Linked DNA regions of Homo sapiens: region 1 is linked to region 2. The links come from fine-mapping of genetic effects on gene expression. A gene starts in region 2. The other region holds a variant in brackets. All regions are shown on one strand. Distances are between the middles of the regions.

Region 1 (4,386 bases), 21 kb after region 2:
ACTTGGCAGGTAGGAGATCACCAGCCAGTGGCCTTAGAGCCACTCAGGGGAGTGGTGGCCAGAGCCAGACCACAGCGGCATGAAGACTGTGAGGAGATGAAAATGTGGAGTGAAGAAACTTTGATAGGAAGGAAGAAGAAAGGAAGACACTCAGAAGCTGAAGCAGAGGCTTTGAGGAGATGTTTTTCTGTTAGGGAAATTAGTTATGTATTTGTGGATATCAAGGAAAGGAACCAGTGGAAATGGAGACATCAAAGTCACCAGAAAGGAAATGGACAGGCCAGGCACGGTGGTTCACGCCTGTAATCCCATCACTCTGGGAGGCTGAGGCGGGTGGATCACCTGAGGTCAGGAGTTCGAGACCAACCTGGCCAACGTGGAGAAACCCCATCTCTACTAAAAATACAAAATTAGCCGGGCATGGTGGCGCATGCCTGTAATTGCAGCTACCTAGGAGGCTGAGGCAGGAGAATTGCTTGAACTCGGGAGATGGAGGTTGTGGTGAGCCAAGATCGCAACACTGCACTGCAGTCTGGCCAACAAAAGCAAAACTCCGTCTCAAAAAAAAAAAAGAAAAAAAAATGGACAGGTAATTTAGCAAGACAGCAAGGGAATAAACTCAACAGCAAAGATGGAAAATTTAGCCTTGAAAAGAAGGGAAATTTCTGAGGCTGGAAGGAAAGAGATAAGCAGACCTACTTATAGCTGGGTTGATTTAGTTTCTGTTGGCTGGGAAATGAGTAAAGATGGGCAAAGTTAAATAAAATGTGTTCACATAATCAGTCTGGTCTATATTTATTTCCCTGTAACCAGAGAGGCAGCATATTCTAGCATCGTAGACTCTGAAACCCAACCTGCTGCTTTGAATTTTACTTCTGGCCATGACATGCTTTTTCGTGGAAGGTCATATTTATATCACTGCAGTAGAATCACAGCAACTGTGCCTAGTCTTCATAGATTATTTAAAAGATTCAGAACATGTGGGACAGATAATTTCAGTCCTTGGAGCCCTATTATTATTTTTATTGACACAACAACAGCCTTGATAATGTGGTATAAACTGGCCTAAATTTAGTTATTTATCTTATATTTGACTGTATCAAAGCAGTGGGTAAGACAGCTAATAATAAAAGCACAATTGGACAGTTAAAATGGATTAAGAAGAAAAACAACTATGACAAAAATGTAAACAATAACAATTACAGAAATGTAAATTTGAAAAATGAGGCATCTTGTGTTAATCAAAAGTGAAGTCAAATTATTAAATCCTTGTAGGGTAGACTTTAGGAAAAGAGTAATACAGAAATTGTCAGCCAGTATTGAAATTGGTTTGGTTCTTTGAATACTTGCTAACATTTGTTGAGCACTTATCCTACATTGGGCACCGTTCTAATATGTATTCATCTCATTTTAATTTAACCCTCTGAGGTAGATCATGTTACTATTATCGTCATTCCTATTTTCCAAGTAAGGAAACTAGGGCACAGAAAGGTTAAGTAAATTGGCCAAGGTCTTATAGCAAATAAGTGGCCCAGCTGCAGTTCAAAACCAGGTAGACTAACTTTACAGCCCTTGCTCTTAACTAATACTCTAGATCTGCAGTTCTCAAACGGGTCTCACGGACACTCCACGTTCTTAAAAATTATTGAGGCTTTCTTGATAAAACATTCAGCAAACTAGGAATAGAAGGAGACTATCCTCAACCTGATGAAAAACACAGCTAACATCATACTCAATGGTAAAAAGCAAAATTTTCCTCTTTTTTTTTTTTCAGGTGGAGTTTCATTCTTGTTGCCTAGGATAGAGTGCAATGGCGCGATCTCGGCTCATCGCAACCTCTGTCTCCTGGGTTCAAGTGATTCTCCTGCCTCAGCCTCCCAAGTAGCTGGTATTACAGGCATGTGCCACAACACCTGGCTAATTTTGTATTTTTAGTACAGACGGGGGTTTCTACATGTTGGTCAAGCTAGTGTCGAACTCCCAACCTCAGGTGATCCACCTATCTCGGCCTCCCAAAGTGCTGGGATTACAGGCATGAGCCACTGTGCCCGGCCAACTTTTCTCTTAAGATCAGGGATAAGACAAGGATGCCTGTTTTCACCACTGCTATTCAACACTGTACTAGAACTCCTAGATGGAGCAATTAGCCAAGAAAAAGAAAAAAAAAAAAGCATCCAAATTGGAAGGGAGGAAGTAAAATTATCTTTATTAACAGATGACATGATCCTATATATAGAAAACCACAAAGAATACACACACACACACACACACAA[A/CA]AAAGCCCTACAAAAAGGCTGGGTGCAGTGGCTCACGCTTGTAATCCCAACACTTTGGGAGCCCAAGGCGAGCAGATTACCTAAAGTCAGGAGTTCGAGACCAGTCTGGCCAACATGGTGAAACCCCGTCTCTACTGAAAATACAAAAATTAGCTGGGTGTGGTGGCATGCGCCTATAATCCCAGCTACTCAGGAAGCTGAGGCAGGAGAATTGCTTGAACCTGGGAGGCAGAGGTTACAGTGAGCTGAGATTGCACCACTGTACTCCAGCCTGGGCAACAGAGTGAGACTCCGTCTCAAAAAACAAACAAAAAAAATGAAAACAAAAAACACACAAAAAAACAAACTCTTCAATGTCTGGCTTAATAGGAGACAGCAGGATTCTCTGCTTCTGCATTCCATCTGTTTCAGTATCGCAAGTCAAGTAGCCTTTGGAAAACCCCACTGCACGCTCCTGAGACAATGAGAGTAAAAAAGGCAAAAATGTCTTAGTATTTTTATGAAAATGCTTTTGATCTCACAAATCACTTGAAGGGTCTCCATGATCCTCAGGACCCCAGACCATATTCTAAAAACTTCTACCACGTACTGTATAGACAGGGACTGCTTCATGGACATAGGACAGGTGCAGTCTCACAGGGCCCTGTGCTCTGGAGAGCCCCCTATTTGAGGTTTAGTGCTTTGCAGTTGCCATCTTGAAAAATTCTTACTCATTTTATCTTCTTTTTTTTTGAGACGGAGTCTCGCTCTGTCACCAGGCTGGAGTGCAATGGTGTGATCTTGGCTCACTGCAACCTCTGCCTCCCAGGTTCAAGTGATTCTCCTGCCTCAGTCTCCCAAGTAGCTGGGGCTACAGGTGTGTGCCACCACACCTGGCTAATTTTAGTATTTTTAGTAGAAACGGGGTTTCCCCACATTGGCCAGGCTGGTCTCGAACTTCTGACCTCAAGTGATCCGCCCACCTTGGCCTCCCAAAGTGCAGGATTACAGGTGTGGGCCACTGTGCCTGGCCCTTAGTAATTTGATCTTTGAATCTGTGTGTTGTAAGTGAAGTCTGATGAAACAACAGGGCATGCACTGGAGCTTGCACCCTGGCTCATGGAGGGTCCCACCTCCTGCTGCCTCCCCACTTCCCAGGGACCAACCCAAGCCACTTGCTTCCTACCCCCTGGTGCCTTGGGCCTCACTTGGCCCGTCTCCCCAACTCCTGCCCAGCAACCACTGTCACCCTCCATCTCTGGTGGGAACCTTGGCACAGGAACCAGAAGATCAGAGTTAGGCACGGGCACCCAGGTTGTAACTCATGGGAAGGTATGGCAGCAACCTACCTCACCCAGACTGGCAATGCCACGATGCGTTCAGTAGCAACTCTTAAGGTATTTTAACAGATGTACTATACATCTGTAGCAACTATAAAGGTATTTTAACAGATGTATTATACATCTATAGTAACTATAAAGGTATTTTAACAGATGTATTAGTTATTAAAATCAAAAATATAAACTAGGCTGGGCGTGGTGGCTCATACCTATAATCCCAGAACTTTGGGAGGCCAAGGCGGGCGGATCATAAGGTCAAGAGATAGAGACCATCCTGGCCAACATGGTGAAACCTCGTCTCTACTAAAAATACAAAAATCAATTGGGCATGGTGGTGCACGCCTGTAGACCCAGCTACTCGGGAGGCTGAGGCAGGAGAATTGCTTGAACCCAGGAGGTGGAGGTTACAGTGAGCCGAGATCATGCCACTGCACTCCAGCATGAGCAACAGAGAGAGACTCTGTCTCAAAAAATATATATATATACACTAAATGATTGATAATAGAAAATTTTTTCTATTGAAAATAGAAAAATGACCTAGAGAAAGTAGTTTTTTCTTCATCTCCTACTATATCTCCTCCCCTAATATTCACCATCTCAGCTCTTATCCATTGAGAAGTCCTAGAAAAAAATCATGAGCACAGAAGAAATGAGCTCCCCTGGGGCCACATTCTGGTTTCTAGATATATTTCCCACTGAAGGGAACAAATGGTCCTGGGAGAAAGGGCTGATTCCAGGTCTGGGGGAGGAGATATACCTCTTGGCATACTACAAATCAAGGAAGTGCTCAAAGA
Region 2 (4,386 bases):
CAAGAGGACAGGAAGAATGGCTGACACTAATTATTCAAAATGCTGTAGTGCTTGCCAGTGCGCTCCATCATGCACAGCAATACATAGTTCAGTCTGTATTCAGTAAATGCCATCACCATCTTCCCAGTGGCTGAGGCCAAAACCTAGGGCTCATCCTCAAATCCTCTGCTGCCATGCAACCCTCTTCAGTAAGCCCCATCTGTTCACCTTCCAAAATACCTACTACGCCCATCCAATTCCTTCCCCTGCACTGCTCCATTTTCCTGCCCGACAGGCTCCATTCCCAGATCTTCCCATAGCTCAAGTGTTACCTCCTCCTAGAAGCCTTCCCTGGCCACCAGCCCCCTCCCCAGTCACCCTATTTTATTATCTTCATAGCATGTCACTATCGATGTATTAATGTTTGTTGATGTCTATCTCATTACCTGCCTCCACAGCCTCTTCTGGCTTGTTCATAGCTATGTCACCAACACTTGGAACAGTGCCAAACACACAGTAGGCACTCAGTATATCTTCACTGAACTACCCGTAATGCCATTTTTTGGAGCACAGGGTCCCCCATGCACTATATTGACAGGCATGTAATATTCGGTGGCCCAGAGCAGCTGCCTCCAGGGGATGCCTCCAGAGACTGGGCCAGACCAAGGGTAGACACTGCTGGTGCCTGGTGAGCACTCAGTGTGGGTGCTGCCTGTATCAGGCGGCCAGGCAGCTGGAGAGGAGGAAGTTACCACCCTATGTACAGACACTCCACGGCCTGACCAGCTGAAGGGGGTTTGCAGCCTACAGACTGATGCAATTTCCTTAGCACCAACAGCTGAGAGACATAGCAGGTTACTTCCTCCTCCCTCCAGACAGCAACCAACATCAGCAGGAACAGAGGCTGGCGCCTGTCCCAACACCCGGCGACCCTCAGGCCTTCAGCTGCCGGCTGCAGGTTAGTCCGTGATCCCTGCAGTGGAGTGGGAGGCAGGGCTTCGAACCCAAGCCCTGTCCCCCTCCATCAGCCCCACCCATTTCCTTCACATTGAAGTGTTCTGCCTCTGCTGCCTGTCCCCATCCTACCCCAGCGCAGGCACTGGGAAGCACTTCTCCATTCACAACGCCCCTTCACAAAGAGGTCTCGGTGGAACCTTACAATAGGACGCACACAAAGTCCACTTGACCGGAAAACCGAGGCCAGACCACACCGTCAGTGCCAAACACCGTCAGGCCAGACACCGTCAGTGCCAAAGCCAGGCCTAGAACCCACGTCTCTGCCTGTTGGTTCCGGGCTATTTCTGCTAGTCATTCACAACAGTTTCTAAAATTAATAAGAAATGATAAGTATGCGAAAGTCCATACATGGAAACGTTCCCGTGAGATGCAAAAAGAACAAGGCACAAACGAGCTGACACGGCCAGGTTCGTAGTGTCCGTGTTTGTTCCGCTCCCCACCGGCCCCTGGGCCCCTCCAGGGCAGGGGCATGGCCGTATTGACGCCTGTGACCCCGGGCACCTGGCGCGGTGCTGGCACCAACATCCCGAAATGCGCCAGCCTGGGCACCTCAGGGCCCGGCTCCAAGACCCGGCCCGTGCGACCCCTGGGGCGCCCCCCTAGTCTGGCCAGGCGCGGGGAGCCCCTGCGGCCACGAACCTCTGTCCCGCGGCGGACGGTCCCAGCCCCCTCGGAAAAGTTGCGAGGCTCCCGTCGCGGCGAGCCAACTCCCGCCGCCCCTCGGCGCGACCCCCGCCGCGCCGGCTCACTCACTCATGCTGGGCCGCCAGGTGGTTGAAGACATAGGTGACCGGGATGGCCGAGAGGGACAGCACGAAGACCCCGGTGGCCGCAGAGGCACTCATCGCAGCCGCCGCGCCGCTCGCCCTTCACCGCATCCCGCTGGGCGCCCCGCCCCAGCTTCCGGCGGCGCCCGCGCCCCCTTGGCGCTTGCCCTTCGAGGCGCCTCAGCCGCGCCCCCCGCGTGGCGCCCTCAGCGGCGTCCCCTCAGCGGTGTCTCCTCCGCGCGCCCTCCCAGCCCGCAGCCGTCCCCCGCGCCTGGCCCCGTCGCCCCAAGTGCGCAGGGCCGCGGTGCAGTCCCGGGAGGCGTCCTTGCAGTGCTCCTGCCAGGGGCGCCACGGCTCAGCGGCAAGCGCCCGGCGGCGCCGAGGGGCGGCGACACCCCCGCGCAGGGACAGGTGCCCCTGGCGGCGCGCGCTCCGAGGGAGGGCCCGGGGCACGGCCGGGAACCGGTCATCGAAGAGCTGGAGAGGCGCGGGGCTGAGCTGCGGTCCGGGAAAGGTGGAACCAGATCCGAGGGTGTCAGAGGAGGAAGGGCCCGCGGGATCGTCTATGGGGGAGCCCACGGCCCAGAAGTGGGAAAGGACAAAATGCCCCTGAAACCTCGGAACCTCTCCGCTCCAGTAGCCATCGGCGGGCTGCTGCACGGAGCCGGCATCCGGTTTTTAAACCTGGCTCTCCAGTCACCAGCTGTTGACTTTGGTCAAATTACTTAACCTCTCTGTCTTTTCCCTTATCTGGGAAATGGGGATAACACACTTCATAGTGTGACTGTGGGGTTAACTGAGTTCATACCTACGAAGCGCGTTATCCTGTGCTGCTCACTACACCACCTCCTGCGATTCTTTTTTTTTTTTTTTCTTTAATTGAAATGGACATAAATGCTGAGACTCTAAGAGACTAGAGCGCCATTCATTGCTATTCCAGGAAGCATTCCTGGAGGCCAGGTGCCCACCAGCCAGCCTGCATTGGGCCCTGCAGGGTACAAAGACTGGAAGATAAGCCTCTTCCTCTGAATGATAGATGCCTACGGGTATGGAAAATATTGTGTGTCAAGTGTTGTGGCTATCTGAAGGGCAGTGAGTTCCAGGAGAACAGCTCAAGCAACTGAGGGAGGTACCGGCATGTACTTACTGTCTTTACAACTTCCAGGGAATTTAAGAGACCATTTATGTGTTTTTGCTGTTGCCATTTGAGGGGTTTATTTTATTTATTTATTTATTTATTTATTTATTATTTTTATTTTTTTTTTTTTTTGAGACAGAGTCTCGCTCTGTCACCCAGGCTGGAGTGCAGTGGTGCAATCTTGGCTCACTGCAAGCTCCACCTCCCGGGGTTCACGCCATTCTGCCTCAGCCTCCAGAGTAGCTGGGACTACAGGTGCCCGCCACCGCGCCGGGCTAATTTTTTGTATTTTTAGTAGAGACGGGGTTTCACCGTGGTCTTGATCTCCTGACCTCGTGATCCGCCCGCCTCGGCCTCCCAAAGTGCTGGGATTACAGGCGTGAGCCACCGCGCCCAGCCTATTTTTATTTTTATTTTTTTAAGACAGGGTCTCACTCTGCAAACCAGGCTAGAGGCAGTGGAGAGATGAGGGCTCACTGCAGTCCCCACTTTCCCACGCCAAGCCATCCTCCCAGCTTAGCCTCCTTAGCTCCTGGGACTACAGTCTCGCACCACTTCTTTGTAGAGGCAGGGTCTCACTATGTTGCCCAAGCTGGTCTCAAACTCCTGGGCTCAAGTGATCCTCCCTCCTCGGCCTCCCAAAGTGCTGGGATTACAGGTGTGAGCCACCGCACCTAGCCTCTAAAAGACCATTTGGCTCATTTTAGACATGAGGAAAATGAGCTACGAGGAGGTATGGCCTGCTCCAGGGCCACTCCACTTTTCAAATGCCAGTTCTCCTAATCCTTCATCCTAGTTCTTCTTGAAGGCTTCTCCAGCTCTGAGTGCATAACGTTTAAGCCTTGGCCCACACTGTGACATATCCAAAGTTTCTCCAAGAGGTGTCCTCACCTGTCACCTGCACATCACCCTCTTCCACCCCTAACCTTCACCACTCTCCTTAAACTCCTACTTCCTCCCTGACAAGAGACACTTCCTCCTATACCTCTGAGCTCCCAGCCAGGCTCCCAAGCCAGCCCATCCCTTCCATCAACACCCAACCTTGTTGCATCAGTCTCAGAGCTGCTCCCTCAGAGCCCACAAGGGACCCAAGTGACATGGCAAAGTTTCAAGGTATTGTGATATACATATTGGGAATTACATGATTTTTTTGTTGACAACAGTTTCTCTTTTTTTTTTTTTTTTTTTTTTTTTTTTTTTTTTTTTTTTGAGATGGAGTCTCGCTCTGTCACCCAGGCTGGAGTGCAGTGGCGGGATCTCGGCTCACTGCAAGCTCCGCCTCCCGGGTTCACGCCATTCTCCTGCCTCAGCCTCCCAAGTAGCTGGGACTACAGGCGCCCGCCACTACGCCCGGCTAATTTTTTGTATTTTTAGTAGAGACGGGGTTTCACCGTTTTAGCCGGGATGGTCTCGATCTCCTGACCTCGTGATCCGCCCGCCTCGGCCTCCCAAAGTGCTGGGATTACAGGCGTGAGCCACCGCGCC

Direction of the effects. Positions count from the first base shown, and alleles are read on the strand shown. Sizes are in standard deviations (SD) of each study's normalised expression.
In carriers of allele CA in region 1, the expression in monocytes of the gene that starts at base 1,877 in region 2 tends to be higher than with A alone (moderate effect, 0.50 SD a copy in Quach 2016).

Evidence for each region. PIP is the estimated chance that this variant, and not a neighbour inherited with it, causes the effect.
Region 1: its variant is the best candidate, but not a certain one, in a credible set for the expression of TM6SF1 in monocytes (Quach 2016, PIP 0.84).

What each region holds. Positions count from the first base shown.
Region 1 is chr15:83,084,201-83,088,586 of GRCh38, reverse strand. No RefSeq gene overlaps it. Among named protein-coding and RNA genes, the nearest start is that of MIR4515, 19 kb to the right of the region's middle. The variant A/CA (reference allele first, on the strand shown) is at 2,274.
Region 2 is chr15:83,105,136-83,109,521 of GRCh38, reverse strand. TM6SF1 (transmembrane 6 superfamily member 1) reads right to left here and starts at 1,877. Exons shown (of 10, transcript NM_023003.5): 1 at 1,750-1,877. The coding sequence starts at 1,841. RefSeq lists silencers at 1,820-1,939, 1,970-2,249.